Regions from separate parts of the Homo sapiens genome. Here region 1 is linked to region 2. Evidence: fine-mapped expression QTL. A gene starts in region 2. The other region holds a variant in brackets. All regions are shown on one strand. Distances are from middle to middle. Region 1 overlaps ARAP3 (ArfGAP with RhoGAP domain, ankyrin repeat and PH domain 3). Region 2 holds the start of ARAP3 (ArfGAP with RhoGAP domain, ankyrin repeat and PH domain 3).

What was found. PIP is the estimated chance that this variant, and not a neighbour inherited with it, causes the effect. A credible set is the group of variants that fine-mapping cannot tell apart.
Region 1: its variant is the best candidate, but not a certain one, in a credible set for the expression of ARAP3 in whole blood (TOPMed, PIP 0.56).

Annotation. Positions count from the first base shown.
Region 1 is chr5:141,656,308-141,660,307 of GRCh38, forward strand. ARAP3 (ArfGAP with RhoGAP domain, ankyrin repeat and PH domain 3) reads right to left here. Exons shown (of 33, transcript NM_022481.6): 22 at 3,472-3,619; 23 at 3,101-3,169; 24 at 2,272-2,346; 25 at 2,058-2,172; 26 at 411-539; 27 at 197-330. Among named protein-coding and RNA genes, the nearest start is that of FCHSD1, 6.9 kb to the left of the region's middle. RefSeq lists an enhancer at 1,555-2,754. The variant C/A (reference allele first, on the strand shown) is at 2,480.
Region 2 is chr5:141,680,497-141,685,010 of GRCh38, forward strand. ARAP3 (ArfGAP with RhoGAP domain, ankyrin repeat and PH domain 3) reads right to left here and starts at 1,734. Exons shown (of 33, transcript NM_022481.6): 1 at 1,677-1,734; 2 at 1-7. RefSeq lists a silencer at 1,734-1,783.

The DNA.
Region 1 (4,000 bases), 24 kb before region 2:
GAGATGAGAGATCATGGTTAATGAGGTCAAGACGTCATGGAAGCAATGGGGTCTGTGGTCACAGGGTCACAGAAGTCGGGGGCAGGGAAGCAATGAGATTGATGAGAGTATGGGCTGTGGAGTCAGAGGGTGGGTGCAGTCATGGCTCCTCTCCATGGCCACCCAGCATCCCACACCTCTGGCCCCAGGGCCTCACTTTCTTCTCCTTGAGCAGCAGCAGGCAGCGGCCACGCAGCAGAAAGAACCTCTCCTGGAAGCGGCTTCCCAGCAAGCGAGGTGGCTCCTCACGACACCGCAACAGCCCCACCCGTGGGCTCTCACGTCGGATACCTGGGCATAGATGGGCAATCCTGGGTGGAGGATGCTAGGGGAGAGACCTGGGGGATGCTGGGCAGAGGAAGGAGGCTCACCTGTGAAGAGGCAGCCAGCTTGGGCCAGGGGGACTTTTTTCAAGAGCAGGGAAGCTGAGCAGGGCTCTGGGAGCTGGCACCATTGTAAAGCCTGCTCTAAGACCTTTTCCTTGGGATGCAGTGGCCGCTCTTAAGGGGAAAGGTGAGGGTTTATATATCAATCAGAATATCCATACTAAGCCCCCAGCTCTCACCAGTCATTCATTCATCCATTCAACTATCCAACCACAGACATTTATTTTTCACTGTCTCTATGCCAGGAACTGTGCTGGCCCTGGGATACGGTGGTGAGCATGATACACATGGCCTCCCTTCACAAAGCACACAGTCTAGTGAGGGTACAGACAAAAAAATAATTGCAGACAAATAATTGCTTTGCAAGAAACAATAAACTGAGCAAGCAACAGGACAGCAACTGAGATAGGGTAGTCAGGCAAGACCTTTCAAAAGTGGCACTTGAAGATGAGACTCAGAGATCTGAAGGATTAGGAAGAGCAAGCCATGCTAAGATTGGGTGGTAGAAGATTTCAAGCATGACAAAATGCAAGAACAAAGGCTGGCAATCAGGAAAGATGTATTTGGGGAACTAAACAGCCAATGTAGCTACAGCAAAGAGGATAGATACGAGAACAGGTGATGTGAGATGAGGCATGGAGGACGCAGGGGTCAGACATTCAAGGCCATGTGGGCCATGGTAAGGGACTGGAATGATACTTTAAGTTCAATGGGAAGCCACTGAAGGGTTTTAACCATAGGAAGGATATGAGCTGATTTATGCTTGAAATATTCACTTGGCTGCTGCATGGAAAATGGATTGTAGGGAGGCAAGCATGGAACATTGTCCAGCTATCCCCTTTCTGGGGCCACACATTTTAGTGGTTACTGTTGACAGACAAAAACATAATGATGACTTCAACTAGGATGGTGGTAGCAGTGGAGATGGAGAGAAGTGATTGATTCTAATGGAATCGACAAGACTAGTTGGTGAGTTGTGTATGAAGATGACACAAAGGGAGGAGTCCCAGAGGACTCCCAGGTTTCTGGCCTTAATCACTGGGTGAATTGTGGTACCATTTACTGAGTTGGGAAAAATTGGAGAATGGCCTAGGCTTTTTTTTTGAGGAAAGGGGACTAGACATCATCTAAATTGGTCTTAGATGTTTTACATTTGAGTTGCTTGTCAGAAGTGGAGGTGTTGAGTAGGCATTTGGATATGTGAGTCTGGAGCTGAGAGGAGAGATGTGGGCCAGATATACAAATTTGGGTGTCAGGTTATTAATGGCATTTAAAACCATGAGAATGGGTTAATTCATCCAAGGAGAAATGTAGATAGATGAGAGAAAAGGGCCTAGGATTGAGCCGTGGGTCTCTCCAACATTTGGAGTCTGGGCAAAAGAGGAAGAGAAGCTCCCTTTAAGGTAGAAGGTAAACTACGAGCTTGTGGGGGTCACTAAGGCCAAGATGGAAGAATACTGAGAAAGAGGGAGTGAGTCAACTGTGTTGAATGTCCCCTCGCATGGATGAGTGGATGAGTCATCCATGAGTTACCATTCATATTTGGTAACATGAAGTCACTGATGACCTTGACCACACAACCACACACACGCATATACACATGCATGAACACACAGGCGTGGTCATACTCACCCAGCTCCCCATGCTCGCGAATCTCAAAAGTCACCCACAAGTCCATCCCAGCTGCTGTCCCCCGCATCTCCAGTACCTGGTTAGTCAGCTCCTCAGCAGTCAGGGTTGGGGACACCTGGGGTCAGGGCAAGAGCAGAGAATTCATGCTGGTCAGGCTATTGCCCCTGGAACCTCACTATCCTCTTATTTCCCCTCCAGTCCCCTCAGGACCAACCTTCAGGGTGACACAGTTGTCTGGGAGCTGCTGCTCTATATAAACTTCCATGATGAGGTCTCCAGCCTGAGACAGCTGAGGGGAGGGGTAAAAAAGTCAGAAGGGCAAAAAAAGGGTGCAAAAGACATCAAAGTCAGAGGGTTCCTCGTGTTGCCTCATAAGTGACTCTTCCAACAAAGGTCTCCTCCCAACCCCAATGTCACTCAGG[C/A]TCTTAAAAGGGAGACCTCTGGGAGTGGCAGAACTGCATCTTTAGGCTGCACATGTACTTCCCAAGGCATCATAGTGGTTGGGAGGACAGATGTGGAGTCAGACTGCCTGGTCTCTCTGCCACTCGCTACAGGGTGACCTTGAATAAATGACCCGCTGAACCCGTTTATTTGAAAAAAATGAGATTACCTACTTCATGGAGTTGTATCATACTAACATGAGATTAGAGATGCTTGGAATATAGTAAGTCCTCAGCTATGTTTGCTATTATATTTATTATTATTATTCTCACTGCTTTGTCTGACTTTACTAACTCGTCCTTGGATCTCTTACACTTAGTAGTATGGTCTCACTTGATGTTCCCACAGAAAACCAAAACCAACTATCCAGTGCCAAGATTATCACCAGGAAGAATCCTCATGGTGGAACAAATGGAGCAAACCCTAACCAAACCCCACTCCCCAAAGCACTTCTCTCATTGGGTTCCCCCTGTCTCCCAAAGAGCTGAGTGCTAGTGTCCAGAAGGACAGGCTGGAAACTTCCTCAACTGGGCAGAAAGTCAGCTTCCTGTCCTGATGTCTCCTCCTGCCCCATTCAGGAGACTAAGGTCAGGACGAGTTACCTGCACGTCCTTCCAGGTGGTGATAAGACTGACCTCCAAGTCAATCTGAGCTACCTGGTCAGAATCGATCTGTGAAAGAGCCAAAAGAGAGTGTTGGGGTGCTGGAAGAGGATCTGCCGGGAAGATCTCAAGGCCAAGGAGGACCTGTTTAAGAGGGCTGGAGGCCAGAAGAGCTAAGAACCAAGGGGGTGAGGATGTTGGAAGTGAAGTTGTGGGAGAAGAAGGGCCAGGGCTCTGGGAGGTAGTTCCTGGTATAGCTGGCCACCAGAGGCCTGGGCTGGGGGCTTGTTGGGGTGATCAGGATCCAGAGTCTCTGGGTCCTGCAAGGGTAGGGGAAAGGGGTTGTGGGTTAGGGGTCAGGAAAGCCTTACATCAAAGACAGAGATGTAGCCATCAATGAGCTCTTGCAGCACTCGCACCTCGTGCTCCCCTCGCCCATCCGTCTGGAACACGCTGGGTGCAAACAGCAGAGCCAAGTTCCGCGTGCACATCTGGTTTAGAGCCGCACATTTCTGCACCCTGCAGAGGGGTGCCACGGTCTTCATCAGTGTAGCCACTCATTCAGCAAACACTTATTGAGTCCCTATTGTATGCCTGGGCTAAGTGCTTGGAATACAGCAGTAAGATAATATTGGCCTCAAGGAGCTCCCAGTCTAGGGGAGACAGATAAGGCAAGAATCAGCAAACTTTTTATGTAAAGGGACAGATAGTAGACATTTTAGGCTTGCAGGACAGACAGTCTCTGTTCTAACTCTCAGCTCTGTTGCTGCATCATGAAAGGAGCTATAGAAAATATATACATGGGCCGGGCGCGGTGGCTCACGCTTGTAATCCCAGCACTTTGGGAGGCCGAGGCAGGCGGATCACGAGGTCAGGAGATCGAGACCATCCTGGCTAACA
Region 2 (4,514 bases):
GCCATTGCTGGGGGGAGGGGCAGGGTGAAGGGAGGGCTCAGGCTGAGAATCCCCCTCTCTGCCCCAGAGTCTGAGGCCTGGACAGTGAGCACCAGCCTCCAATCTTCCTCCAAAGAAAGATGCTGAAAGGCCTGCGATCTGGAAGCAGAGCCATCCCAGAACAACAGCAATGGCTCTCTACTTAGGGAAGGGACTTCATTTGAAGTTAAGGAAACTGAGGCCCAGAGAGGGGAAGGGGCTTGCCCCAGGTTCACAGTAAGTCAGTGCTAGAGTTGGCCCCTCAGTTCCTGCCCACCCTGGGTCTGGGTCAAAGCTCTGCTCCTGCCTGACTGCACATCCAACTGAGTAAGCATGGGACAAGATGCTAGAATGCTGTGGGTCAGAGTGGGATAGGGAGATGCAGAGGAGGGGCCAATGATGTGGCCAATCAGCTCTGGAGTAAGGTAGGGAGAGGGGCAGCCTAGATAGGAGGAAGGAGGTGCAGACGCCCCCTCCCTCTTGTTTCCAGAGCCGATGTATGCAGGCCTGCCGTCCTAATCCTGGTTGTTCCCAGTCCCTCCTCCCCTTCCACCTATTGTCTCTGCTCAGACTTCCTTCCTGTCCCTCCAGCCCTGGCCGCCTCCACATCCTGCCTGCTTTGGTCAGGCTGCCGGGAGAGCCCTAACCAGTCCTAATGTGTGGGGTCCCGGCCCTGGGTGGAGGCTAATTGAAGAATAAGGATGGGGATGCCAGAGAGATGAGGCCTGACCTCTGGTCAGGGGTACTCCAGAGGCTTCTGGACTCTCTGCCCACCGGCAGCATGTTCACATGCTGTTCACCTGTGTGTGCACATGCCCTGTAGCGATTTGGCAGTGTGAAATGCCATCCCCCCACCTCTGCTTTCTCCAAGCCTTCCTTTTCTGAGCTTGCCTTTTCCCTGCTCATTCCCTTGGGCTCAGGTCTCTGTGCTCTGTCCCCCTTCCACCAGCCTGACCCCGACCCTGACCCTGGTCTATTTCATAGACCTGTCTCTAATTCTGTGGCCCCTGAGTTTTATCTCTGCCTTGTCACTGTCCCTGCCCCATTCCATCTCAACCTCTCAATTCTTCTTTGTCCCTCTCCTTGTCCCACCCTGTTTTGCTCTCTGTTATTAAGCTTGTCCTTGACTCAGTCTACAATTCTAACCAGATCTTGAGTTGTATCTGTGTCTCTGTCTGCCTCTGAGCCTGGGTTTCTGTCTTCCGCCTCGGCCTAGGCTCTCTCCCTGTTACTCTTGTGCTCTGTCGGTGACCAGGACGCCCTCTCCGTCCCAGCATCACTGCTGGCCTCCCTCTGCCTCTCTCCAGCTGGGCCTCATTCCCAAGCCAGGGCCCGCGTGCTGAGCCTCGGGCCCTGACTCAGGGCCCGGTTTCCCGGTGACTCAGGCCGGGCTCGACAGCACGGGGCTGGGAGCTGAGGTGCTCGCGGGACAGGAGTGGCGGGGGCGGGGCGGGCAGTGGCGGGCAGCGCAGGCTGCGACGAGGGAGGGGGCGAGGAGGGATGGGGCAGAGGCCGGGCAGCAGGAGGGAGGGGCGGGTCGTGGCAGGGATGGGGAGGGCCGCCGGCGCCGAGGGGGCCTGGGAGCCCACGAAGGCCCTCGAGAAGGTGATGGGGAGGAGTCTGGGAAGCAGGGACCCGGGGGGCGCGGGGGTCCTCACCTCACTACGCGGCCGCCGTCCGCTCGCGGGTGCCCGCCGCTCGTCCGAGGTTCTGGGTCCCGCCGCGCCGGCCCCGCCTCCCCTCTGCCCTCCCTCGACGGGCCCAGCCCCGCCCCGCCCGGCCGGTTCCCTCCGCGGGGCCCCGGCCACTCCTTGTGCAAGCGCAGGCCTCCAAAGGGTTTGGGCTTCTTGCCCAACCGCCGCGCTTATCTCCGAGTCTGCCCCCAGTCTGCCCTCTCGCAGGCCGAGAAAGGACCAGAACACGTTGGGACGAAGACAACCTCAGGGAGAGGGACAAAGAGGCAGAGACCGGGACGGAGACTGGGACGGAGGTAGAAACTGAGAAAGGGAGAGTGCCAGGGACGGCTTTGCATCCTCTCCGCTGCTCCCATGCCCTCCAGTCCTGCCAAAAGGGAGGAGGAAAGGTCGAGCCCTAATCCCCCAGGGCACCTCTCCCACGCCCGGAAGGGTGGCTGGACCCTGGCAACCAGTTTAGTGTGGGGACGGAAGCTGGACATCCAGAATTGAGACTTGGCCTGGGCAACAAGCGCAGAGGCCCAGCAGAGGGGTACCCGTCTGTTTCTCCCCACTTCCATCCCCAAGGGCCCGGCCTAGGTTCCTTCGAGGGATGAAGGTCCGCAAGGCACATCCCTACTTCCAAACCAAGGTTTGGGGCTGCCTTTTTGGGACAGGCGGACGCCCTGCAAGCTCAGTGACCAAGCAAGCAGCTGTTTCATTCATGGGAGAAGCCGCCCCTTCTCCCCAACTCCCACCCTAAAATTTCAGGGGGGATGCCGGGGAGGCCTGAAGAGGAATGGCCCTTCTCTCCTTCGCTAATCTTGCCGGAACCCCGGTCCTGGAGCCTGTCTCCCAGGGGCGGAGGCACTTCCCTCTCTGAGCAGGACCAGTGTTTGGGTGTGGGGGGGGGGTGTTTGTGTGTGTGTGTGTGTGTGTGTGTGTGTGTGTGTGTGTGTGTGTGTGTGTGTATGTGTTGGGGGTGGCGGGGGCGCTGGCCGGCTGTGTTTTCCTGTTTGTATGAGAGGAAGTTGGCTGTGAGTCAGCAGACACAGGAACTGTCAGTAGCTAGGGGAAGACCCCTGCCTCAGGGGAAGAAGAGGGGAGTGGGAGGAAGTGGTTCCCACCTCTTCCAGCTGCCTCAGCTAGGGGAGGGACTGTCATCTTCAACCTACTGGAGCCCCACTTTCCCGGCCTTCCCTTTGAGAAAGAGAATTATAGTAATAAAATAATAATTGCAATAGCCATAATAAGGGCTACCAATTATTGAGAGCTGACCGTGCTCCAGGATCTATGTAAACATTGCTTTGCAAACTTTAATCCTCACAAATATCCCTACAAATAGGAAATTTTATCACCTCTATTTTACATATAAGGAGACAGGGAGCATTAAATAACTTGCTCAAGACTCTGCAGCTAGAAAATAGCCAACCCTCCAAGTCTATATCTATAACTACCATGCTCACCTACCACCCTGGACAGGACCCCTGCACCATGTCCTTTTTTTCAGATGGGCAACTGTGGTGGCAGTGAGAATGCTCCTCACAGATCTTACACTGTGAGGAGTGAAATTAACCAATGGCCCCAGCTGCTTCTCTCTGAAATCTAAGGCCAGCTTCCCACTGGGCTGCTCCCAGCCAGTGACAGAGCTCAGCAGAGATCTAAGGCAGACCCATTCCTGGGAGATAGGGGACTCCTTTGACAGCTGACTTTGGATCAAGATTTCCCAATGGCTTTGCTGAACTTTCCTTTGACTGGTGTTTTAGGATGCTCCTCTCAACCTTTATTCCTTCCCTCTCTCCTTCACAGCTCTCCTAGCTCCAGGCTCCCTTCCTCTCTCACAGGCATCTCCCCTAGTCAAATCCTTGCATTCTGCCTTGGCAGCTTCTTCTTTAAGGACTCAGACTAACCCAGCAAAATAAGGGAGCAGGAAAAGACAGTAAAGGGCACAGGGAGTTTTGAGGAATGGATGCCGGGGAGTTTGGGTCAGGGGCTAGATGCAAGAGTTCTGAACCTTTTTGTGCCATGTTCTCCTTTGGCAATACGGTAAAGTATGTGGTCTCATCTCAGAATAATATTTTAAAATGCATAAAATAAAATATATAGGATTGCAAAGGAAACCAATTATGTTGTAATACACATATAAAACCGATGTGATATAGTAATATATGTGCTTCTTTATTAATGCTTTAAATAAGATCTAGTGGTAGGTTGATACCTCACATAACTTTGATGCAGTGATGAGCATAAATGGTATTTCAAAAGATCTGCAATATTGTAATATGATATAAAAATATATGTGATTTCTACTGGTGACAAAGCCATAGTTATGGCTAAAATGACTGGTTTGTTGCTATTGTCATAATTGGAGGAAATGTTAAATTTCAGCTAGAGATTAGTGAAAGTAATATTCTTTTCCCATCCAAGTCCACTGACTCCAAGTTAAGGACACCAATGCCAGATGATGGGGCAGAGCCACAGAGAGGGAGACCTGGCTTCCTCCCTCAGACCCCACTTCCCTTCTTTGGCTCAATGATATGGGGCAGGTGGAGGCTTCTGGCCCCTGGCTTGTGTCTTCCTGAGTTCAAGCAATTCTCGTGCCTCAGCCTTGTGCCTCAGCCTCCCGAGTAGCTGGGATTACAGGTGCCTGCCACTACACCCAGCTAATTTTTGTATTTTAGTAGAGACAGGGTTTCACCATGTTGGCCAGGCTGGTCTCAAACTCCTGTCAGGTGATCCATCCACCTCAGCCTCCCAAAGTGCTGGGATTACAGGCGTGAGCCACCATGCCCGGCCGAAATTAGTAAATCTTAAATCTTAATC